7 linked regions of the Homo sapiens genome follow. The gene in region 3 interacts genetically with the main gene of each other region. Each region holds a gene or a part of one and is shown on either strand. Other genes may lie near its edges.

Evidence for each region.
Region 1: changes in TOP1 (region 3) and LLGL1 are lethal when combined (synthetic lethality), as found in Homo sapiens cells (one large-scale study listed by BioGRID).
Region 2: changes in TOP1 (region 3) and CDC6 are lethal when combined (synthetic lethality), as found in Homo sapiens cells (one large-scale study listed by BioGRID).
Region 4: changes in TOP1 (region 3) and MTOR together harm fitness more than expected from each alone (negative genetic interaction), as found in Homo sapiens cells (one large-scale study listed by BioGRID).
Region 5: changes in TOP1 (region 3) and FH are lethal when combined (synthetic lethality), as found in Homo sapiens cells (one large-scale study listed by BioGRID).
Region 6: changes in TOP1 (region 3) and NF1 are lethal when combined (synthetic lethality), as found in Homo sapiens cells (one large-scale study listed by BioGRID).
Region 7: changes in TOP1 (region 3) and PBRM1 together harm fitness more than expected from each alone (negative genetic interaction), as found in Homo sapiens cells (one large-scale study listed by BioGRID).

The regions. Positions count from the first base shown.
Region 1 is NC_000017.11:18,232,135-18,235,634, forward strand, and holds part of LLGL1 (lethal(2) giant larvae protein homolog 1), read left to right. Parts: intron 1-360; coding exon 361-442; intron 443-537; coding exon 538-668; intron 669-1,643; coding exon 1,644-1,802; intron 1,803-1,878; coding exon 1,879-2,041; intron 2,042-2,138; coding exon 2,139-2,274; intron 2,275-2,514; coding exon 2,515-2,569; intron 2,570-2,704; coding exon 2,705-2,859; intron 2,860-2,954; coding exon 2,955-3,178; intron 3,179-3,335; coding exon 3,336-3,403; intron 3,404-3,500. UniProt on the Homo sapiens protein: Cortical cytoskeleton protein found in a complex involved in maintaining cell polarity and epithelial integrity. Involved in the regulation of mitotic spindle orientation, proliferation, differentiation and tissue organization of neuroepithelial cells.
Region 2 is NC_000017.11:40,297,879-40,301,378, reverse strand, and holds part of CDC6 (cell division control protein 6 homolog), read right to left. Parts: intron 552-3,500; coding exon 349-551; intron 1-348. UniProt on the Homo sapiens protein: Involved in the initiation of DNA replication. Also participates in checkpoint controls that ensure DNA replication is completed before mitosis is initiated.
Region 3 is NC_000020.11:41,108,822-41,112,321, forward strand, and holds part of TOP1 (DNA topoisomerase 1), read left to right. Parts: intron 1-3,500. UniProt on the Homo sapiens protein: Releases the supercoiling and torsional tension of DNA introduced during the DNA replication and transcription by transiently cleaving and rejoining one strand of the DNA duplex.
Region 4 is NC_000001.11:11,106,035-11,109,293, reverse strand, and holds the end of MTOR (serine/threonine-protein kinase mTOR), read left to right. Parts: coding exon 1-4; intron 5-1,007; coding exon 1,008-1,113; intron 1,114-1,793; coding exon 1,794-1,809; 3' UTR 1,810-2,759; downstream 2,760-3,259. UniProt on the Homo sapiens protein: Serine/threonine protein kinase which is a central regulator of cellular metabolism, growth and survival in response to hormones, growth factors, nutrients, energy and stress signals.
Region 5 is NC_000001.11:241,513,256-241,516,755, reverse strand, and holds part of FH (fumarate hydratase, mitochondrial), read left to right. Parts: intron 1-3,042; coding exon 3,043-3,153; intron 3,154-3,500. UniProt on the Homo sapiens protein: Catalyzes the reversible stereospecific interconversion of fumarate to L-malate. Experiments in other species have demonstrated that specific isoforms of this protein act in defined pathways and favor one direction over the other.
Region 6 is NC_000017.11:31,223,977-31,227,476, forward strand, and holds part of NF1 (neurofibromin), read left to right. Parts: intron 1-1,118; coding exon 1,119-1,274; intron 1,275-2,458; coding exon 2,459-2,708; intron 2,709-3,241; coding exon 3,242-3,315; intron 3,316-3,500. UniProt on the Homo sapiens protein: Stimulates the GTPase activity of Ras. NF1 shows greater affinity for Ras GAP, but lower specific activity. May be a regulator of Ras activity.
Region 7 is NC_000003.12:52,584,914-52,588,413, reverse strand, and holds part of PBRM1 (protein polybromo-1), read left to right. Parts: intron 1-903; coding exon 904-1,061; intron 1,062-1,725; coding exon 1,726-1,989; coding exon of another isoform or gene 1,990-2,001; exon of another isoform or gene 2,002-3,233; intron 3,234-3,500. UniProt on the Homo sapiens protein: Involved in transcriptional activation and repression of select genes by chromatin remodeling (alteration of DNA-nucleosome topology). Required for the stability of the SWI/SNF chromatin remodeling complex SWI/SNF-B (PBAF).

The sequences.
Region 1 (3,500 bases), on a different chromosome or scaffold from region 3:
GCGGAGCCCCATCCTCTCACCAGGCTGAGGCCAAGCCTGCTGGGTGTGTTTATTCTCACTTGATCTGCAACAGTCCTGTAAAGTGGGAGTCACTGGCCCAATTTACGGGAAGTGAAGGTCCTATAGCAGCACCTGACTTGCAGGAGTGAGTGGAGCCTGCACACTGATCTTGGGGATACTGTAGGGGTGCAGAGTGGGAGCTTTAGGGAGGGGGCCTCCGTTCTTCAGGGAGGACTCCTGGATGGTCAGGCCCATGCCGGGGCCCACTGGAATAGTCCGGGTCAAGGAGGAGCCTTGGGTGTCTTCCTCACTGTGGTTTGCTGGTCTATGCCTATTTCCACCTTGACCTGCCACCCTCAGCTATGGTGCACCTGGCGTGGAGTTCACAGGCCTGCACCGGGATGCAGCCACTGTCACACAGATGCACTTCTTGACCGGCCAGGTGAGCCTCTGCTTCCCACTAGCCAGCTCCCTGTGGCCCCCATATCTACTCATCCCCCTAGGCCAGCCTAGTTTTCATCTCTGCTCACACACCAGGGCCGCCTCCTGTCCCTGCTTGATGACAGCAGTCTGCATCTCTGGGAGATTGTCCACCATAATGGCTGTGCCCACCTGGAAGAAGCACTCAGTTTCCAGCTGCCCAGCCGGCCCGGCTTTGATGGTGCCAGGTACTGGAGAACTTGGCTGGGGCCAGCCACCGGGCAGGGAGGATCTGGGGGAGGCTGTGGGAACCTGCTGTGCAAAGGCAGCATGGAGATGGGCAGCGGTTCAGGGCGGGATGCCTTGAGCTGGGCCTGGGTCCCAGGCTGCAGCTGTTGGACCCTGCTTTACTGAGGTATACTCTGAACTTTTCAGGTTAAATGGGAGGTTTGGGTTGAGTCCGACGTGAGCAGGTAATTAACATTGTGAGCAGCAGGAGGTACATGCATTATATGCCAAACTTCTAGGACCTGAGGCCTGGCACTACACTTACTGCAATGATGGGGGTGTCTAGGGGTTTGGGGCAGGGCCTAAGCCAGTTAGTAACAGGAAGGGTCCCCTGGCCTCTTCAGTTGTGGGTGGGAGACAGGCCTTTCTGTGCATAGGCAGGGTTGAGGGCAAGGAGGGTCCCATGGGCTGTGCTTGGTAAGGCGCTGGCAGCATGCCCCAGCTGAGTGAGAGTGTGGGGCATCTCTCTCCCCAGCCCTGCCTGAAATAGCTGGAAAAGGGGAGTACCAACCCAGGGATGGATTCCTGATGCCTCCCAGCTTCTGCAGATGGGGGTATCTGGGGCCCTCCTGCGAAGTCAGGAGATGTCTGAGCGCTGGCAGCGGGATTCCTAGGAGGGGCTCAGCGGGGAGCTCCTGGTCCTGGCTTGGGCAGTGCCCTGGTTCCTGCTGTCCTCTCCTGGTGGGTGGGAGGAGCTGGGAGCCCAGTCTGCAAGACCTAGGGACCCTATTTTTATCCATCTCCCTGCTGACATCCTGATGAATAATTGAGCGGGCTGATGATGATGCATGTCTTCCTGGGGTGGCTCTGTAAGTAGGCCCTGGTGAGTGCTGTGGGGCCAGTGATGAGTTATCAGCAGTGGCCCAGCCCCTCACACCCCACCTGAGCAGGTGGATGGGCTTGTACCCTCACTCCCTTCCCCTTGTTCCCTGCAGTGCTCCGCTCAGCCTTACCCGAGTCACAGTGGTCCTGCTGGTGGCTGCCAGCGACATAGCAGCCCTGGGCACTGAGGGCAGCAGTGTCTTCTTCCTGGATGTTACCACCCTGACCCTGCTCGAGGGGCAGACGCTTGCCCCAGGCGAGGTTCTGCGCAGGTAAGAGGCCGGTGGGCTTCCCAGCACCCACTGTGTGCCCGGGAAGTTCTGCTGGCTCACCTGCCTTCCTCCACAGCGTGCCAGACGACTACCGCTGTGGGAAGGCACTGGGCCCCGTGGAGTCACTCCAGGGACACCTGCGGGACCCCACAAAGATTCTCATTGGCTACAGCCGGGGCCTGCTGGTCATCTGGAACCAGGCCTCGCAGTGTGTGGACCACATCTTCCTGGGGAACCAGGTATGTAGGTGAGGCCTGTGTCCCCTCAGCCTGGGCCCCTTGTGCATGCCCACCATGGCTCATGCCTGCCTGCCTGCCTGCCCCTGCCTGCCCGCAGCAGCTGGAGAGCCTATGCTGGGGGCGTGATAGCAGCACTGTGGTCAGCTCACACAGCGATGGCAGCTATGCTGTCTGGTCTGTGGATGCCGGCAGCTTCCCAACGCTGCAGCCCACGGTAGCCACCACACCTTACGGTGAGTGCTGGGGACACCTTAGCCAGAGGGTGGTGATGGGAGGGGGCACCACTGAGCCAAGCCAAACTGGCTGAGGAGGGACTTCCCCGAGGGGGTGGTCTGGGGGCAGTGTGTCTCCCGCCGACTTCCCGGGGAGGCAGGAGGCAGCTGTAAGGTAGAGAGCAGTGGAGGGCAGAGCAGGAATGGCAGAATTGCTAAGAACCACCAGTGAGTCTGGTCTGACGCTGTCCCACCCCTCAGGCCCCTTTCCCTGCAAGGCCATTAACAAGATTCTGTGGCGGAACTGTGAATCTGGGTAGGTCGAGGGAGTGGGTGTCCGATGTGAGTTGGGTCTGGCTAGGGGGCTGGAAGGGTGGGCTCTCCCTAGGTTGTGCAGTATGTGCTCTGGACCCAAGTGGTTCATGGCTCGCACACCTCCCTCTGCACATAGGGGCCACTTTATCATCTTCAGCGGTGGCATGCCCCGTGCCAGCTATGGTGACCGCCACTGTGTAAGTGTGCTTCGAGCCGAGACATTGGTGACGCTGGACTTCACTTCCCGCATCATCGACTTCTTCACAGTGCACAGCACACGGCCCGAGGATGGTGCGTGCCCTGCCGTACCCTACCCTTTCCCAGCCCCACCTGGTGCCCTCTGCCACCTATGGCTGTGCTCACCCCATACTCCCTCCGTCCCACAGAATTTGATGACCCCCAGGCCCTGGCTGTGCTGCTGGAAGAGGAGCTGGTGGTGCTGGACCTGCAGACTCCTGGCTGGCCAGCTGTGCCTGCCCCATACCTGGCCCCGCTGCACTCCTCTGCAATCACTTGCTCGGCCCACGTGGCCAGTGTCCCCGCCAAGCTGTGGGCCCGCATTGTGAGCGCTGGCGAGCAGCAGAGCCCCCAGCCTGTCTCCAGTGCCTTGGTGTGTGCGGCGATCAGGGGGGTCTTACAGGGTGGAGTCTTGAGGAGGGGGAGAGTTTCAGTTCTAAGCCCGGAGGTCAGAATGTGCCATACTCGGGGTGAGAGGGAGAAGATGTTCGTCCTAACCTTGTGCATACATCTCTGCCACCCCCTCCCAGAGCTGGCCCATCACTGGGGGCCGAAACCTGGCCCAGGAGCCGTCACAGCGAGGGCTGCTGCTGACGGGGTAGGTGTGCGTGCTTATGTGGGTGAGTGGGCCCCTTGCTGTTGGGGGAGAGCCCATCCTGGGCCTGGTGGGTGCAGAGGTGCCAGGAGACTCAGGC
Region 2 (3,500 bases), on a different chromosome or scaffold from region 3:
AAAAACTTATCTGAATACCCTATTTCTTCCTCTTTTCAATAAAATCTTTGAACAGGCTTCTGTAGATATTCCCGAAAACCTATACAGTAATGTAGGAAAGGGGCTTTATATATTTCCTAGAGAGATGCAGAAATGAAGGGGAGGATAGGGAAAGGATTAATGATAAACTCTCAACCACAATCCAAGGGAAATAGGTGCCTTTTATATAGTACCAGTATTAATTCTTACTGTTAAAATCCATTTTAAATTTATTATCAGCTGAAGTATCATAGGCCTTTTGGAAAATACCTGCTCTGCAAAGCAGATTCTGATCTCTACCTCCGTTCCATCTGCTCCATCCCAACTTACCTTCCCCAGAGTGACCTCTTTGATTTTCAACTGCCTGATCAAGAGCATCAAAGAGCAAACCAAGATCTTCTGCTGAAGAGGGAAGGAATCTTGTGCTCCTTCTTGGCTCAAGGTCATCCTGTTACCATCAACTTCTGAGATGACTTGGGATATGTGAATAAGACCAACCCTCTTGGGAATCAGAGGCTCAGAAGGTGATTTACCTATAAAGTAAATAAGCCAAGCTTAATTCGATTTCTAAAATACTGTGTGTGTGTATGTATGATGAGACAGATGATACTAAGTTTGAGCTAAAGGAAATTCAAGTATAGTCACATGGTGGCAAAGCAGAGGTTTTAAATCTCTAACCAGAGGCCAAAGGATGAGAGATAATGCTATTCTCTTAAGGATGTCAAAATAATGTGGGATGACTTGAAAAGTAGGGTTACCCTTTCTCTGGGCCAAATAGTGAGCTGTTTTGTCCTATGGAATGTAATTTAATGTCAGAGGAACAAAACCCACCTCATGAAAGGACCAGAGAACTACTGTATTTTTTTTTGGGACAGGATCTCTGTCACTCAGGCTGGAGTACAGTGGCACTATCATGGCTCACTGCAGCCTTGGCTTCCTGGGTTCAAGTGATCCTCCTGCCTCAGCCTCCTGTGTAGCTAGGATTACAGGTACGTGCCACCATGCCAGGCTAGTTCCTAGTATCTCAGAGGTATAGAATAACAGAACCTTGAAGCAAAGATGGTGACTGTGCTTGGTAATTAAGAAAGGAAAAAAAAGGCCAGGTGCAGTGGCTCACGCCTGTAATCCCAGCACTTTGGGAGATCAAGGCGGGCAGATCACCTGAGGTCAGGAGTTGGAGACCAGCCTGCCCAACACGGCGAAACTCCATCTCTACTAAAAATACAAAAAATTAGCTGGATGTGGTGGCAGGCGCCTGTAATCCCAGCTACTTGGGAGGTTGAGGCAGAAGAATCACTTGAACCCGGGAGGCAGAGGTGCAGTGAGCCAAGATTGTGCCACTGCACTCCAGCCTGGACGACAAGAGTGAAACTCCATATAAAAAAAAAAGAAAGGGAAAAAAAAGTTGGAAAATTACCGAATATTTTGGATCAAATGAGTGGCTAAATGTGGAGAGTGAAGTCGCTGCCATGTCAGCCCTTCAGATGGCTTCCCCAAATGACCTTTGAGGTTTGGTTCACTTGCCCAAGCTGATTAGCAGTAGAGCAACACTTGAGAAAATGTCATTGGATATGCTAGCAGATAGCACCATCTTTTTTTTTTTTTTTTTCTTTTTGGTATTTTTTGTAGAGATGGGGTTTCATCATGTTGCCCAGGCTGGTCTTGAACTCCTTAGCTCAAAGCAATCTGCCCTCCTCGGCCTCCCAAAGCACTGGGATTATGGGCGTAAGCCACCATGCCTGGCCAGATATCATCATCTTAATAAAAGCCAGGGGTTGGGAAACTGCCAATAAGCTTCATAAGACTATATCCTTAGCAAACTACTGTAGGAACAGAAAACCAAATACCACATGTTCTCACTTCTAAGTGGGAGCTAAATGATGAGAACACATAGACACATAGTGGGGACAACACACACTGGGGCCTATAGGAGGGTGGAGGGAGAGGATCAGGAAAAATAACTAATGGCTTGAGCTCAGGAATTCATGACCAGCCTGTGCAACAAGGCGATGGGTTTCCCCCATCGCTACTAAAAATACAAAAAAAACAGCCGGGTGTGGTGGTGTGTGCCTGTGGTCCCAGCTACTCAGGAGGCTGGGGTGGGAGGATGGCTTGAGCCTGGGAGGAGGAGGTTGCATTGAGCCAAGATCACGCCACTGCACTCCAGCCTGGTGACAGAGCGAGACCCTGTCTCAAAAAAAAAAAAAAAAAAAAAAAAAAAAGACTATGGCCTTATCGTTTGGAGATGCATGAATTCCAAGACAAAGAAATGTGTTCTGTAACAACCTTTACCTGAAGTTACTTCCTGAAATCACTTGCAGTTGCCCCACAACAATTTACTTCTATAATATTACATTACCACAAAGGGATGCTGCAGAGGACTAATGGAGAAACCGGAGATCACAGATCAAGTAAAAGAATCTTAAAATTGAAAGGAATTTAGAAGTCTATTTTTACTCCCTATCCACTGGCCGAGTCCTCTCTAGAACAATCTCAACAAGTGGCATCTATCCAGCTTTTGTCTGAATATCTTCAATGCTGGAGAACCCACTATGTTTCAAGGAAGCCCAGTTAGTTCTAGTTATTATAAATTTTCTTCTTATATTTAGTTAAAGTCATTCTCCCTATAGCTTTCTGGAGCCCTTGAAAGCCAATCTCAACCTGGTATGGTGGCTCATGCCTGTAATTCCAAAGCTGTGGGAGGCTGAGGCAGGAGAATCACTTTATCCCAGGAGTTTGAGACCAGCCTGGGCAACATAAGGAGACTCCTCCACCCACTGACTCTACAAAAATTTTAAAATTAGCAGTAGCTGGAGCTGGGGAGGCTGAGGTGAGAGGACTGCTTGGGCCTGGGAGGTTGCAGCTGCAGTGAGCCATGATCGCACCAGCCATAATTGCACCACTGGACTCCAGCCTGGGAGACAAAGCAAGACCTTGTTTTACACAAAAAGAAAAAAAAAAAAGAAAGAAAAAAGCCAATCCCGCACAAACCAGAAGTCAAAAGATAGAACTTACAACCTCTTTACCTTTTTGAATTATGTTTGTGTTAGTGGTGCTCACAGGGGCCAGTGACAAGCCTAAATGTTACTGATGGGGAAAAAGGAGGAGGAAAAGGGGATAATCTGAAAAGTTGAAAAGGAGGAAGAAACCAGTATCTAAGTCTATACATTGGTATATATTGCCTACTATTAGCCTAAGCACTATTTTTGGCTACTTCTGAAACATTTTTAATTATTTTATTTTAGCAAATTGATGAAAAAAAGAAAGAATTTCATGCAGAACTATAATGCCAGAAACAATTTTACTTAAACTCCCAGCCAGTGTAGGAGTGAAAAAGAAACAATCAAATCTTACTATTCTGTTTATAAAGACTAACACTGGATATCAAATACTGTAAGATACGTAGTTCATGGCCATTTTACATTTGCCACAACCAAAACAAGGCTGAGGGAATGGAATATTAATTTTGTCATTTGTGATAC
Region 3 (3,500 bases):
CAAAAAGGCTGCTTATGGGTACTCACTGCTAAGTACAATCCACTGCCAAGTTTGGAAGCATTACCTGCTCTCACAACCCAGGGAAAGTAGCCCTTAGTAAAATTCAGGTTTTTTCAAACCAGCCTTAACCTTACAAACAGAATTTATCATCATGATTTTTCTTTCAAATGCAGTACAGCAAACTTTAGGATCAATGTTGACATCGTATTGCGTTTAGTCCTGTTAAAATACTCTCAGTGCCAAATACACACTTCTGCCTTTTTTCTCTTTAGAGTCTAGAATTCTGTGGGGTTCCAAAAATGTATGTGCTTACAACCTTTTATATGTAACCACCTAGGGATTAAAGGGCTAAATGTGAAGGAAAGTATCTTTACAATATTCATCTTGGGAAGCTCTCATTTTGGTGAGTTCTATTAGAGAAAATAAGACACAAGCTCATTAAAAATATATATATATTCTGAGCCTGGCATCTTGGTATAAAATTCAAAACGTTTTAAATCTATTTATTAGTAAGACTAACATAGACCTAAGTGTGAAGACTAAAATATTAAAGCTTGTAGGTGATATCATGGTTGAATATGACCTTAGAGTAGATTCCTTAGGACAGAAAAACACCAACAAGAGAAACAATTGACTAAATGGACTTCATTAAAATTAAAAATTTATGTTCAACAAAAGACACTGCTAAAATAAATACAGAATTTACAGACTAAAAGAAAATATTTGCAACATGTTTATCTGAAAGGGCTTATATCCAGACTATACAAAGAATTCCTGTAGCTCCATAATAAAAAAACAGACATCCCATCCGCATAATAAAAAGAGCAAAAGACTTGAACATATACTATACAAAAGAAGATACAGGAATGGTCAATAAATAAGCAAATGAAAGAGTGCTCGACATCACTAATTATCAGTGGAGTGAAGATTTAACCACAGGGAGATACGAATTCCAGTTCTAGGTATTTTTACCTCAAGTGAAATAAAAACATTTATCCATGAAAAAACTTGTACAAGAATGTTCATAGCAGTGCTCTATTCATAAGAGTGCAAAACTGGAAACATCCCAGAATAGATAACACATTATGGTATAGTCATAGAATATACTATATTTATCAGCAGTTAAGAAGGGAACTACTTATGTATTCAACAACATGGATGAATCTTAAAAACATGGTTAAGGGCCAGGTGCGGTTGGTGCATGCCTGTAATCCAAGCACTCTGGGAGGCCAAGGCGGGTGGATCACTTCAGGTCAGGAGTTCGAGACCAGCCTGGCCAACATGGCGAAACACCGTCTCTACAAAAAAATACAAAAATTAGCCGAGGGTGGCGCACACCTGTAATCTCAGCTATTCAGGAGGCTGAGACATGGGAATCGCTTGAACCTGAGGGGTAGAGGTTGCACTGAGCCGAGATTGCATCACTGTACTCCAGCCTGGTGACAGAGCGAGACGCTGTCTCAGAGGGAAAAAAAAAAGTTAAAAAGGCAGACAGAGGAGTCTATATTGTATGATTCTATTTATATAATCTAGACTAGGCAAAATTTATCCATGATGATAGTAATCAGATTGAAGGATCAGTGGTTGCTTGGTGGAAATTGACTGAGAAGGGAAATAGTCATGTAAGAATACTGGCAAATGTCCTCTTCCCCATTACAAACGTCTGAGAAAGTTACTAGAAAACAGAATCCAATTTGCCTTCTCACCCCCAACTTTGTAATCTTGAATCCAGATCCTGATTCCACCCAACCACTCTGCTGAATGGATAGCAGCTATATTAGAGAGACAATATAGTGGGCCTACTAGTTTTAAAAAGTCATCCAAAGAATGTCATCTACAATCAGTTAAATTAGATTTTTACCCATTACTGAAGTGTGATTGAATTAGGGAAAGAGGAGAGGTGGTCAAAGGCAGCCTTCTCCAGTGGATTCCTTGTCTTCTTGAGATGGTTTTGTGAGACCTTGCCTGGAAGACCTAGGTGGATAGTTTATTTTCTAAAAGTAGTCAAGAAAGCTTGTTCAGGGCATTGAACACTGCAGGGACAAGCATACTTCTTGGAGGCCAGCCATCTCCTGCTGGATCTAAGCGGGGTGGCTTCTGCCTCCACCTCCATCTCAGCTTATTTGAGAGAATCCTAGATCCTTGGTGCAGAAGCCCAGCCAGCCTGTGAAGAAAAGTTGGTCTGGTAGTATCCTGTGAATGACGTGCGGGTTGGGTTTTTCTAAATCTCGTTTACCTGACTCCTACCTTACATTCCAGTGGTGTGACTAAGGAACTGAGCAAACGTAACCCTAGGGGACTTTGAGACAGGCTTTGGTAGTCCATGTGCACTAGAGTGAGGGGAAAGAGGCCACTCCAGAGTTGGGTACTCTACTGTTGAAGGTGAGCCTTTTGTGTCCAATTTTTCCGTGCATGTGTAAGAACAGTTGTCATGGAGATTTACTACTGACTTGTGCATGAGGACAGCTTATATCTCACCTTTTCTTATTCACCCTGTTAAATGTCAAAATGTACTAAGACTTAGGTATTTTTTCTGTGTCACCAACTACTAAATCACCCACCCATGATAGCAGGTAGTTACTGAAACTCTTGTAGCCAAACAAGTGCATAACACTGGTACACATGATGTGAGAGTGCAGATGACTCCTTAGCTTAACTGTGTAAGCTTTTAATTTCTGAGTACTTTTAGGATTGAGAAGTGGAAGACATTCTTGCTCTAGGTATCTCATGCTTCTGCACACCCAGAAGGCTGGTTGCGCCCCCACCCCACCCCCCGCCCCCTTTTTTTTTTTTTTGATAGGGTCATGCTCTGTTGCCCAGGCTGAAAGGCTGGTTATCTTCACCACAGGTCTTATGTCTCAAGGACCACGGGTCCACGTCATAGTCAGGAACCAGGCATGTGTGGGCAGAAATCACTACCACTTTCCTTTGTTGCGGGTGGGGAAATTAAGAGCAGAGATTCTTGGATTCTTAAATTCCTTCTCTATGTTTATGTCATCTAGTCTGTTTTATGCTGTTTTATGTAATTCCCTGCTTCTGGATTTCTTGAATTTTTTTCCCCTTCTCACTTGTCATAATTGGCTCTTGCTTGTGAGTCTATTTTCATTCAGCTTGGTAGCAGAAGTCTTCTTCACTATTGTTTAGATTCAGTTTTCACATGGTTTTAGTAACCCTTCATTGGGTTTAGAATCAACTTTTAACCCTTCCACCAAAAGCTCTTATTTTTTTAAAGGCTTCCCAGAAACATAGTTTCTCTCAATCTCATCAAGAAATGCTTTTAAATGCAGAAGTTAGAAAATGGTGAATAATTATGGCTGTTCCTGGAAGTCATTGTGTCCTTAGTAATTACATGTTGTAGTCTTTGGTTCTGCTTCTTTGACAGCTCCACCACACTGTAATTTAATGGAATTCACTTAGATTTAATGGAATTCAGTCCTGGTAGAAAACTGCTATTGGGTCACAGAGTTGGCAGCAAGGCTGTGAAATTGATGTGGGAATGG
Region 4 (3,259 bases), on a different chromosome or scaffold from region 3:
ACTGGTGAGTGTGTCATGTGTTTACTTAAAAGGGACATAAAATCTGAGCACACTTTCCTCTCTGAGTGGTGGTCAGCCCCATGTCCAGTGGTGTTAGTGACGAGCTTTGGCACCATGCAGCTGACAAAGAGTGTCTTTGAGGTCATCAGTTAAACATTGTCTCTGATTCTTCTTTCTGATGACTGATAACAGTACTTAATGTTAGTTTAATCTCATTTAACTCAGGAGGTGAATAAATTTCTTTTGGGTCCAAAATCAGCCAAATTCAGAGAAGTGTTTTTTAATCATGTCTTTTTTTTGTTTGTTTGAGACAGTTTTGCTCTTATTGCCCAGTCTGGAGTTCAGTGGCTCCATCTTGGCTCACTGCAACCTCTGCCTCCCAGGTTCAAACAATTCTCCTGCCTCAGCCTCCCGAGTAGCTGGGATTACAGGTGCACGCCCAGCTAATTTTTTGTGTTTTTAGTAGAGATGGGGTTTCACCATGTTGGGCAGGCTGGTCTCAAACTCCTGACCTCAAGTGATTCACCCACCGCACCCGGCCGAATTTTTCTTTTTTTCTTTTCTTTTTTTTTTTTTTTTTTGAGACAGGGTCTTGCTCTGTCACCCAGGCTGGAGTGCAGTGGTGCGATCTTGGCCCACTGCAACCTCCACCTTCCAGGTTCAAGTGATTCTCCTGCCTCAGGCTCCCAAGTAGCTGGGACTACAGGCATGTGCCACCACACTCGGCTAATTTTGTATTTTTAGTAAAGACAGGGTTTCACCATGTTGGCCAGGCTGGTGTTGAACTCCTGACCTCAGGTGATCTGCCTGCCTCAGCCTCCTAAAGTGCTGGGATTACAGGCGTGAGCCACCGCACCTGGCCAAACTTTTCAAATCCAACTATGATGGTATCCTTCATCTTCATGTCTGACGATAAGCTGTTGGCATAGACAGTTAAGCCCACAGGGAACAAGAAGTGCATCGATTGCCAGGAAGAGAGTGAAATGTTTTTGTTCCTCCTGTGCTAGGTCGGGACTTCTCTCATGATGACACTTTGGATGTTCCAACGCAAGTTGAGCTGCTCATCAAACAAGCGACATCCCATGAAAACCTCTGCCAGTGCTATATTGGCTGGTGAGTGGGGCTCTCAAAGTGACTTTGTTAAAATAAGCAATCAGGTCCCAAGCCTAGGCCCCAAAGCCAGAGTAGCAAAAAGAGATTTGGTGAGGTATCTGTAAAGGGCAGTTAGAGCTCAGATCTCTTTAAAAATTCATATTTACTGCATGTGCCCATTGTTATAAAAAAAGAAACTGAGAAATATGGATGCATACTTGGAAGGCAAACACTAAAATTAAAATTACATTAAGATAAGTGGTTCAGGAGAATAGGCAAGGCTTGTTTGTTTGTGAGGGGTTCCTTTTGGGTTTTGCTGTCAGTCCAGTGCAGAGATACAGGAAGGGCGAAGGAAAGAAAAAGCTAGAGCAGTGACAGAGAGAAGGAGATAAAAAGACAGATTTATGATCTGGGAGTCTAACCTCAAGGGCCACTCTGGGGTGTGCTTTGATTAATTGCCCAAGGCATGCTTGAAGGCAGAAACTTGAGAGAGCGGGCGCTGGGGAAGTGTCCTTGCGGGACCTCGGTGGGCATTAGCCTTGACTGGAAATGATGAGTGTGTCCCATGCAATTAGCTGTGGGAGAGCTCAGGGAATACCCTAGGGTTGTCAGACCTTGGCCTTTTCATTTTCAAGTTATCTGTGTAAACCTTTGAAGAAGCTCAAATTATTAAAATATTCCTTTTCTTTCTGCCTTCTTAGGTGCCCTTTCTGGTAACTGGAGGCCCAGATGTGCCCATCACGTTTTTTCTGAGGCTTTTGTACTTTAGTAAATGCTTCCACTAAACTGAAACCATGGTGAGAAAGTTTGACTTTGTTAAATATTTTGAAATGTAAATGAAAAGAACTACTGTATATTAAAAGTTGGTTTGAACCAACTTTCTAGCTGCTGTTGAAGAATATATTGTCAGAAACACAAGGCTTGATTTGGTTCCCAGGACAGTGAAACATAGTAATACCACGTAAATCAAGCCATTCATTTTGGGGAACAGAAGATCCATAACTTTAGAAATACGGGTTTTGACTTAACTCACAAGAGAACTCATCATAAGTACTTGCTGATGGAAGAATGACCTAGTTGCTCCTCTCAACATGGGTACAGCAAACTCAGCACAGCCAAGAAGCCTCAGGTCGTGGAGAACATGGATTAGGATCCTAGACTGTAAAGACACAGAAGATGCTGACCTCACCCCTGCCACCTATCCCAAGACCTCACTGGTCTGTGGACAGCAGCAGAAATGTTTGCAAGATAGGCCAAAATGAGTACAAAAGGTCTGTCTTCCATCAGACCCAGTGATGCTGCGACTCACACGCTTCAATTCAAGACCTGACCGCTAGTAGGGAGGTTTATTCAGATCGCTGGCAGCCTCGGCTGAGCAGATGCACAGAGGGGATCACTGTGCAGTGGGACCACCCTCACTGGCCTTCTGCAGCAGGGTTCTGGGATGTTTTCAGTGGTCAAAATACTCTGTTTAGAGCAAGGGCTCAGAAAACAGAAATACTGTCATGGAGGTGCTGAACACAGGGAAGGTCTGGTACATATTGGAAATTATGAGCAGAACAAATACTCAACTAAATGCACAAAGTATAAAGTGTAGCCATGTCTAGACACCATGTTGTATCAGAATAATTTTTGTGCCAATAAATGACATCAGAATTTTAAACATATGTATATGAGTGGCGTTTTAGTCATAATTTTGATCAGTTCAAAAAGGAAGCATTTACTCTCTTCAGCACTCAGCCTTCAGTAAACACTCTGTAGTAGGGATGACAGAGGACGTAAGGGTGTACGTGACATGGTCCCTTTCCTCAGACTGTTCCCAGGCCAGACAGGTGGAGACAGCATGCCACTGAAGTGAACAGAACTTACCCCGGCCAAGTGCTGAGAAGAGGCATGTATGGGCCACAGGTAGGAGCGTGTATTCCACCGGGTGAGCCTGGAAAGCCCCATAGAAAGGGGGACATTTGGCATGGGTCTTAAAGAGGGGTGGGAGTCTGTCAGATGAACCAAGGGGGGGGCATTCTCAGCAGAAAAGGAAGTGTGAGGCACTGCTGTAAAAGCAAGGTATCCATAGCAGTGGCAAGTATCAGTTGGACCATTTGAAATCACAGGTACGTGGACCATTTTTAATATACAAAACTGGCATTTTCTTATGGCTGCACCTCAT
Region 5 (3,500 bases), on a different chromosome or scaffold from region 3:
GCTTGAACCCGGGAGGCGGAGGTTGCAGTGAGCTGAGATCGCACCACTGCACTCCAGCCTGGCGACAGAGTGAGACTCCGTCTCAAAAAAAAAAAAATTAATTTAATTTTAAGTTCCGGGATACACATGCAGGATATGCAGTTTTGTTGCATAGGTAAATGTGTGCCATGGTGGTTTGCTGCACCTCTCAACCCATCACCTAGATATTAAAACCCGGCATTAGCTATTTTTTCTGCTGCTCCCCCTCCGCCCACAGGCCCCTGTGTGCTTTGTTCCCCTCCTTGTGTCCATATGTTCTCATTGTTCAGCTCCCACTTACAAGTGAGAACATGCGGGTTTGGTTTTCTGTTCCTCTGTTAGTATGCTGAGGGTCACAGCTTCTAGCTCCATCCATATCTCTGCAAAGGACATGATCTCATTCTTTTTTATGGTTGCATAATATTCCATGGTGGATATATACAACTTTTTCTTTATCCTTTATTGATGGACATTTGGGTTGATTTCATGTCTTTGCTATTGTGAATAGTTATTTTGGATTTTTATTTGGCAGAACTAAATGATTGTCTTTTCACTCTTGCTGGGTATTTACAGATTTTTACTAGGGTTCTACAGTTTGTAAATATTTTTATTTCAATACTCATTCTTTTTTCCCCCACTAATTTAAAACTGAGATTTTTTAAAATTACACTTTGTATTTTGGTTTCAGTTTCCTAAAAAGTGTATAGTACACAAACACATCAAAGTATTACTCTTAACCATGTCTGACATATAATAGATAATATATAAGTATTTATTCAATTCCATATGAATGATTAAATGATGAGAAAACTTTCTACCACATTCAATTAAATTTAAGATGCCATTAATTAGAAGATGCACCAATAGGCACCACTAAGAAAGAAAAATGCTACCAATTAAGGTTGTGACTTACCATTGATTACAAGATACATCTTGATTTCAGAGATGTTAAAGTGTGAAAAGAATTGAGAAATGCATAACATATTCTACGGGAGCCCAACCGGAGTATGAAAAATAGTCAATGCAGGATAGGCTAGTAAGCCTAGAAGTAGATAGGCTTCATCCTGTGAGATATTGTTTAACACTTATCTTATAAATATGCTTTTATTTTCAATAATTTTAAGTCATTCCTAAGCCTTCAAGACTGCCTCTTGACAGGTATATAGAACTTTACAACAGGCAGCTGAATCTTTGATGAGAATATCTTTGTCATTGCCATCTACAGCCTTCTTGGTGGTGAGGTAAACATAGTTTGACTACGTGGTTAGGTGAAAAAGGGTAGTGACCAATCCTAAAATAATCTCATATTATTCAACTCCAGAGACTAAGGAGGAGGTCAGCCCCAGCTAGTGTTGGTGGGAGTGAGCATGGCTGCCGTTTTCATTGATCTGTGTCACCAGCATGTTTTGTGGTTCTGGTGGGGCATGGTTCCTGCTGCTGCTGCTCCAGAGACAGCACAGCCATTGGGATTGCACACCTGTGAAAGGCAGACACCTGGGGTCTCGATTTTGTCATACTTTCTGAACTTTATTATGTGTAAAACAGTCTGTATGTACTCTAAACTGAGTAGTATGATTAAACTCAACCCTTTTTACTTGAGGTCCAGAGGAAAACAAAGCTAAAAAGATTATGAACATCTAATGTGAATAAATTAAGAATAAAGTGACCTGTCTTTTCTCTCTAGTGATACATTTTGCCATTTTATGGTGTTCGTTGAACCTCTTTCTGCTGTGAATGACCCTTTTTTATTTTTATGGTCCATAAACACTGGGGGTCATTCACTCCATTCAGATGGCCAGCGTTGATTGGCATTCACCTTTGCCCTTGGTAGTGGTTCAGCCCACTACCTCAGTGTTTGTTACTGTGGAGATTTAAATTCCCATTTGTTTTTGTGTTTAAAGTTTTTAAGTTTCTAATCCTGTGTGCCATCTGTCCTCATTTCGTTTGAGTCAAACGTTTCTAATGTTTTAATTTTAGTTACTTAAAATTGAAATTTCAAATTTTCTGGTTTTCCTTTTCTATTTGACCCTCAGCTTATACTTACTCTGGTCCAGGTTTATGTTTTTAATGTGTCTTATTTCTTACTTTTCTTGGCTTTTTCTACTTTGATTCCAGAGATAGCAGGTTCTCTCTTATACATTCATCATTCTCTTCCTTTCTTCCCTTTCTCCCTTCTACTCTTTCCCCATTCAAACCTGGTGTGGGATCTATACAACAATCTGTATTATTAATTTTGACAAGAACTCACAATTCACTTGTCTTATAAAAACTAGGTTTTCATTTCAGTTTATCCTTTTCAAGCTTGGTGAGGTGATTTGGGATAGACAATGAAAATATCTGCATTAATGGGGTTTTATATATATCGGAAGCTGTCACCTTTAGGTCTGGAGAATCTTGGGTTTAAAAAAATAATTCTTCTGAGAGAAATGTCCAGGGAGTTACTGAGTATTAAGGCTTTACTAGCTAAGTAGAATAGATTGCTTTTTGGCCTTGGGGTGAAATGATAACCCAGTCAGTCACTGGTAGTCTCATACTGATTGGCAGTTAAATATATCCCTTATTTATTTATTTTTTTAAGAGGGGAAGGAAACAATTATAATGTAACGTGGGATCCAGTAAGAGAAAATAATGGTTCTTGCTGGTGAAAAGATTGAGTACTAAATTTGTTTTTATTTATAGTATATGAAATAAACACATATAATTTATTGTGTGTATTTGTGCATAGGATTGTATTCGTGTGAATATGTGTGTATATGTATGTGGGAGACGTACACACATATATATATGAAGAGTCAATGTATTTGTTTTTATTTGGTTCCTTAAACAAATAGATCTATGATAATGTTGATTCTTGGTTCATGAATTCCTGTCTATAATCTTTCTCTATAACCGAAACATTTTAGAGCTATAGTGTTACTGTTTTATTGTTATTGTTTTATGTATAGCTTTTGCATCTGCCAAAATAATAAACTTCCATGCTTAAGTAAAATTGTAAATTTGAAATATTTTTCTGATTAATTTTAGACCCCAGTTATTAAAGCTTTTGGCATCTTGAAGCGAGCGGCCGCTGAAGTAAACCAGGATTATGGTCTTGATCCAAAGATTGCTAATGCAATAATGAAGGCAGCAGATGAGGTAGGAGGTGATAAGTGTGTTTGCTTAATAACCTCAGACCCATGCCATACTCTGGATGACGATATGCTCTGGCAGAAGGAAAGGGGAACTGTGAATTCTTGAATTAATGAATTTCAGGGGAGGGTGGTAGCATTATTTTTAGTGGTGATATTAATATGGTGCTTAAAACGTTACATTGTGACAAAATTTCTGGATGATTTTATACCTTTTGTTTTTAAGCCTTTTGACTTTCCTTAATTTATATAGTTTTAAGAAAATTTTTTGAAAAGATATCATTTGAACTTTACTTGATTTTTTATTTTATATATAAATCTTTTTAAAACCAGTTGATTATTTGATAATGCATA
Region 6 (3,500 bases), on a different chromosome or scaffold from region 3:
TGGGAGTACTTGATTTAATGGGTTTTTGTCCAGTTCTAGAATCATAGCTCTGAGAAATCGTAAAGACCTAGATCTCATGGCTAGACTAGTCCAGAGAATTATCTATCAAGAAGCAAAAGGGAAACAGTTGAGGGTCCTCAATCTAGATTTATTTCGATTCCTCCAATAAGGGTTTCACCTCTTGAAAATATCAGGAGACTTTTTCATTGGGGTGGAGTGAAATGTTTTGATTCTGAACTATTGAAACATGGTGAGGTTGTGGAAGATAGAGAAGAGCCTTAAATTTCTTTTAACATATAGTTTCTGTAATTAATCAATTTAGGAATTCTGTTATGGCCTAGTTTTCGGAGTACTTGATTTAATGAGTTTTTATCTGGTACTAGAAGCATAGCTGTGAAAGACCTTAAATGTATGAAACTCATATCCTTTTCAGTATTTACAGCTTGTTATTAATAAATTGTCTCTTTAGAAATAGACTAATGGTGAAGTGGGTTTATTCACATGTGACTTATTTGATATGTTAATGTAGTGGAATTTGGCATTATTCCAAAGATACAGAAAGAGATTAGACTTCAGACTTTCATGGCCTCGCCTATGGTATAATCTCCAGAATGTGAGTATGAGGAATCCAGTAATGAATTCATAGTGCCCTGGTAGGCATAGTCACTCTTGTGACATACTTGGTGTATATACATACCAGAGTTAATTACTGGTCCAGAAGAACTTAATCTCAAGAGCCAATTTCTGGTTATCCCAACATGGCACAGTATAAAATCTTATGGAAAAAAAATCTTTGTCATTGAGATCAAATTATAGTTTTCATACAGTAGATTTATATTGTTGATGTTTTACTCATGTTTATGTCAGACTTAATTTATATTTGTAGAATCTACTGTTTCTGATGATTTAGAGAATGGGAAACTGAAAGAAATTTTAAAGAATTAAGTAAACCTTGTTTGTTCTAATGGGTTTCTAGTGAATCTCCTTCAAGTTGGGGCATAGAGATTGAGAGGAGAGGTTTTTTAGGAGAGTCTCAAACAGGAAGACAACTCAAATAAGTGTTTATTCCTCTTGGTTGTCAGTGCTTCAGTAAAGCTTATTTATTTATTTTTTTCTAGCAGGCAGATAGAAGTTCCTGTCACTTTCTCCTTTTTTACGGGGTAGGATGTGATATTCCTTCTAGTGGAAATACCAGTCAAATGTCCATGGATCATGAAGAATTACTACGTACTCCTGGAGCCTCTCTCCGGAAGGGAAAAGGGAACTCCTCTATGGTCAGCTTCTTCTGTACTTTTTCTGTATCATTTTATGTGCTCTGTTTGTTTTCTGAATGAAATTTGGTAAATTTCATCTAGGTAATATAGTGTAATAGTGAAAAACTGCTTAGAATCTAGTTCTATTACTGCTCTTTGTGGAACTTTGGGCAAGTTCTTAACATCCTTGTTCCTCAGTTCCTCAACTTTAAAATGGGGACAGTAATAGTTCCTGCCCCAGAGTTGTTAAAGAGGGTTAAATAAAAGGATGTGTAAATAGCACTTGACACTTACAAGCTATATCTGATAATTATAATTATTATAAACCTCCACTCCATAAAAAACCCATTCATACCACAGAAGTATAGAATTCGTACCGGCTAACAAAGGTACAGATTTACAGGGATAAAAACAAAGTATTTTGCTTCATGTTAAAGATAAGTGTTTCTGTGATTTGTGTTTGTGTGTATAATTTCTTTTAAATATAAATCATATTTCAAGTGAAAATATCACATCATTACAGAAGAGTTTATTTTCCAAACCAAAACTTTTTTCATTCCTAATTTTTAATGCAACCTTGTTAAGGAAGAAACACCTAAGCAGTATGATATTTACTAATGTCTGTTTTACTTGTAGAATTTGCATTTATTTTATCAATTATTTTCTCCATTTCGTGTTTGGAGAATAAGTAATTCAGAATCAAATGTATCTTCTACAGCAATATTTAGTTCTTGTTTATGCCCTTGTTTCAATGAGTGCTGCAGTGTACTTATTTTATTACTTCCCTATAGCAAGTAGATAGAATTTCCTGTTACTTCCTCTTTTTTTGTCATTTCTAATTGACTGGGAGGTACATTATATTGTTACTGCAGTAGATTTACGTTATGGTGTTTACCTGTCCATGTTAGAATCAGTTTACATTTCTGGAATCTGGAATAGGATAATATCTATTTGATTTGAAATTGAACAGATGGTAGCATTATGTTGGTCCAGATAATCTCATTTCTCATTTGGACAAGATATTTTGGGGTTTGAAAAATTCCTATAATGATTAAAGGAAAAAGCTCTTGTGAGTTATTGTATGCGGAGACACACACACACACACACACACACACACACACACACACACAGTTTATTGCATTGTTAGATTTTATACATAAAATTACCCAAGTTGCAAATATATGTCTTCCACCCTTGACTCTCAGGATAGTGCAGCAGGATGCAGCGGAACCCCCCCGATTTGCCGACAAGCCCAGACCAAACTAGAAGTGGCCCTGTACATGTTTCTGTGGAACCCTGACACTGAAGCTGTTCTGGTTGCCATGTCCTGTTTCCGCCACCTCTGTGAGGAAGCAGATATCCGGTGTGGGGTGGATGAAGTGTCAGTGCATAACCTCTTGCCCAACTATAACACATTCATGGAGTTTGCCTCTGTCAGCAATATGATGTCAACAGGTAAATGTGAATAGTGGTTTTTTTTACTCAGTCTGCCTCAAAGCACATGGCATCTGATTTTGAGAATGTATTTAAGGTCACTACTTTGTAAGTTTACAGGGGAAATTCAAGTAGCTTACTTGAAATCCTTTTCTGAACAAAGTAAGATGAAAATAAAAAGCATTTGAAATAAATTGTTAGTCTTCCACTGAGTTGTTAATATGCTATACATTTTAAAAATAACTGGCAGTAGATGTTACTATCAGTTATGATTATGTAATTTACTCTGCCTAAGTTGTAGATAGTGAAGTTTTACAAACATTGGCGTATGTTTTGAGTAAATTGTAGGTGGGAATAGCTATTTTATTCTGTGGACATTGTAGAGTCCAAGATAAGTACCTTTCCTGTGAGGTTAGTGAAAGGAAGTTTTTGGCTTTATCATTTGAAGCATTTGCTCTGCTCTTCCTACTCCTTTTGGGTGGAGCTTATCAGGTTCTCCATTGGCAGGCAGGGCTCTAAGTGCAGTAACTTGATTTGCTGTTGTATTTGCTTAGGAAGAGCAGCACTTCAGAAAAGAGTGATGGCACTGCTGAGGCGCATTGAGCATCCCACTGCAGGAAACACTGAGGTATGCCCTTAGCAACAGAAACACCCCTCCCAGGCGCCCACCCTCAATTTGGAAGCCTCTTGTTACATATGTGTGATCAGGAATAGCTTTTGAAGTAAATCCAAGATACGTGCATATTACAAGTATAATATCTGAGTATTTAATATACATCAAGTTTGAAACTTGGCTGTAGCTGATTGATGTTT
Region 7 (3,500 bases), on a different chromosome or scaffold from region 3:
CTACTCCAGTAAGGAAGATTATGATCAAAAAAGAAATTATTATAGAATGACATGCCTTGGCTTAGCATTTGTTTTCAAAAAGGCTTTCTAGAACAGTTGCCTTTAAATTGAGACATGGAGTATGCATAGAAATTAATGAAGCCAGAAGTTGGTGGAAATGTGATCCAGGCAATCCAGTTCTTTGAGCTGCCTATCACATGAAATACTTTTGTATTCCTTCACCAGAGAGCTAAATATGTCCTTCAGTAGCATATCTGTCCCCTTACTAAAGTGCACAACTCTAGGTATGTACTAACCAGAGCAGAGTGGAGCAGGTCTCATCACCTGTCCTCCTCATTATGTACTTTATATGGCTTTTAATATGAAGAAGAGCCTGGGCAACATGGCAAGACCCCTTCTCTAGAAAAAATAAGAAAATCAGCAGGGTGTGATTGCACTTGCTGTGGTCCCAGCAACTTGAGAGGCTGAGGCAGGAGGATCACTTGAGCCCAAGAGGTTGAGGGTGTATATATATATATATGAGGGGGGAAAAGTAGCATGCATTTTTTAGGCCTCATTACACTTTATTATTTTTGAGTATTATTTCTCCTGTGGATAATTATATTAAACTGTAGCTGTAAAAATAAGCACAGTGCTAGGTTCATGTCATGGCAGAGTGGATTGATGGTGTATTTCCTAATTTTGCAAAGAATGTGTGATTTCTGAGCTGGACACAGTGACTTATACTTGTAGTCCCAGCTACTCAGGAGGCTGAGGTTGGAGGACCACTTTGGCCCAGGAATTCAAGTCCAGCCTGGGCAACGTAGTGAGACCCAGTCTCTTTAAAAAAAAAAAAAAAAAAAAGTGATTTCTGTTAACAATGATTCTCTTTCTCTTCCCCTTCCCCCACCCCCCATTTTTGAGGTGAAAAATGGTTGTATGGCTGTTGGTTTTACCGACCAAATGAAACATTCCACCTGGCTACACGAAAATTTCTAGAAAAAGAAGTTTTTAAGAGTGACTATTACAACAAAGTTCCAGTTAGTAAAATTCTAGGCAAGTGTGTGGTCATGTTTGTCAAGGTAAGAAACTCATTAAATCCCAAAGTCTCACTCATTCCCTAGGAATAAAATTTTAAAACACAGAAAATAATCGATGTTTACAAAATTAGGAACTCTGTTTTAAGCTATTTTTTAAGCCGTGTCTATATAGCTATATGAAAAGATTTGGGAAGAAATTAACCTGAACTTCGTTGTGAAAGACCACTTGCTGCTTACACTATTTGGCTATAATGCAGTTAGGTTAAGTTTTTAATATTGCCAGGCTAATTTTTAAGTATGATGTTTTTTTAAGGATAATCATTACAAATTTTCAGTTTGTTTTTTAGGTAATAATGTGTGCTTTTGTGTGTCTGTCTGATACACACACACAAGCCCTCTTCAAAGCTTTAAGGAACATTATAGCTATATGAAATGTTCATATGTTTTCAAAGAGCAATTGTAAGCTAAATGGAATTATTTGTTTTTATAATTTAAAGGGTGTGTATATAATAAGTCCATTCCGTAGCCAAAGAAATACTTCTAAATCTCTGGTCATTTATTATTTTTTGTTAACTGCCAGAAAGTCTGTAATCAGTTCAGCTTTTGTTTGGTTGGTTGGTTATTTGCTTTTTTTTTTTTTTTTTTTGATTGATTTTCAGAAAATTCACCTAACTAGTTTTATTCTTATGCCCTCCCCACCCCCCAGGAATACTTTAAGTTATGCCCAGAAAACTTCCGAGATGAGGATGTTTTTGTCTGTGAATCACGGTATTCTGCCAAAACCAAATCTTTTAAGAAAATTAAACTGTGGACCATGCCCATCAGCTCAGTCAGGTTTGTCCCTCGGGATGTGCCTCTGCCTGTGGTTCGCGTGGCCTCTGTATTTGCAAATGCAGATAAAGGTGATGATGAGAAGAATACAGACAACTCAGAGGACAGTCGAGCTGAAGACAATTTTAACTTGGAAAAGGTATGCAGATAATAGCCACACAGAAAAAATTTTACATCTCAAAACACCTATTCCAGAAAATAAATGAATAAAGTATTCAAACTTAGAAAAAGAGCAACAACACAAAACCTTAGCCAAACAGGAAGAAGGAAACTATAACAGAAAGAAATTTACACTTTCAAAACTGTACATTATAATTTAAAAGTAAATCAGGCCAAGTGCATTGGTTCACGCCTGTAATCCCAGCATTTTGGGAGGCCAAGGCGGGCAGATCACGAGATCAGGAGTTCGAGACCAGCCTGACCAACATGGTGAAACCTCATCTCTACTAAAAATACAAAAATTAGCTGGGTGTGGTGGCGCGTGCCTGTAATTCCAGCTACCCAGGAGGCTGAGGCAGGAGAATGGCGTGAACCTGGGAGGCGGAGGCTGCAGTGAGCTGAGACCACGCCACTCTACTCCAGCCTGGGCAACAGAGTGAGTCTCTGTCTCAAAAAAACAAAAAATTTTTTTAAAGTAAATCTAAGAGCTAATTATTTGACAAGTCCAATTAGATAAACTGCCAACTATCTAATAATGGGAAAAGAAAGGGGTTAAACTTCGACACAAAATGTGGAAGAAGGCCAGGCGCGGTGGCTCACACCTGTAATCCCAGCACTTTGGGAGGCCAAGATGGGTGGATTACCTGAGGTCAGGAGTTCGAGACCAGCCTGGCCAACGTGGTGAAACCCTGTCTCTACTAAAAATACAAAAAATTAGCTGGGTGAGGTGGTGGGTGCCTGTAATCCCAACGGGAGGCTGAGGCAGGAGAATCGCTTGAACCCAGGAGGCAGAGGTTGCAGTGAGCCGAGATCGTGCTATTGCAGTCCAGCCTGGGCAACAAGAGCGAAACTCTGTCTCAAAAAATAAATAAATAAATAAATGTGGAAGAAATGTAAAGACTGTATATTTCTGCTAATAAATTTGAAAACCTAAATAAAATGGCTAATTGTCTAGGATATTACAAATTACCAAAATGGAATCAAGAAGAGATATAATACAGAATGTACAACAACATGAAGAAATTTTTTAAAGTATCATAGAACTGACCCCAAAGAGTACTGAGGTCAGACAGTTCCATAGGTGACTTTTTCTTTAAGGGACCTATGATTATTATACTGTTGAAGCTGTTTCAGAGCAGGGAGAACAAGAAATTTCCAGTTTGTTTTGCAAAGCCAAGATAATCTTGATTTCACAACCTGAAAAATAAAAACAAAAAACTGCAACTCAGTCTTATTCATGTATATTGATGCAAAAATTACTTGGGGGAAAAAGTAAGTGAAATCAAATTACTTCTTTGAGAACAACATGACCAAGAAGTGGGAATTCATTCTAAGAAAGCAAGAATTGTTCAAAGTTAGGGAGATCTTTAAATTTCATTCATTATTCCATTAGATCAAAGGAAAGATTATTTGGTAGAGAACCCATCTTGATTTTTTTTAAGACTTTCAATAGGTATTTCTTCTAGTGTAATTTTTTTTTAAATTCATATT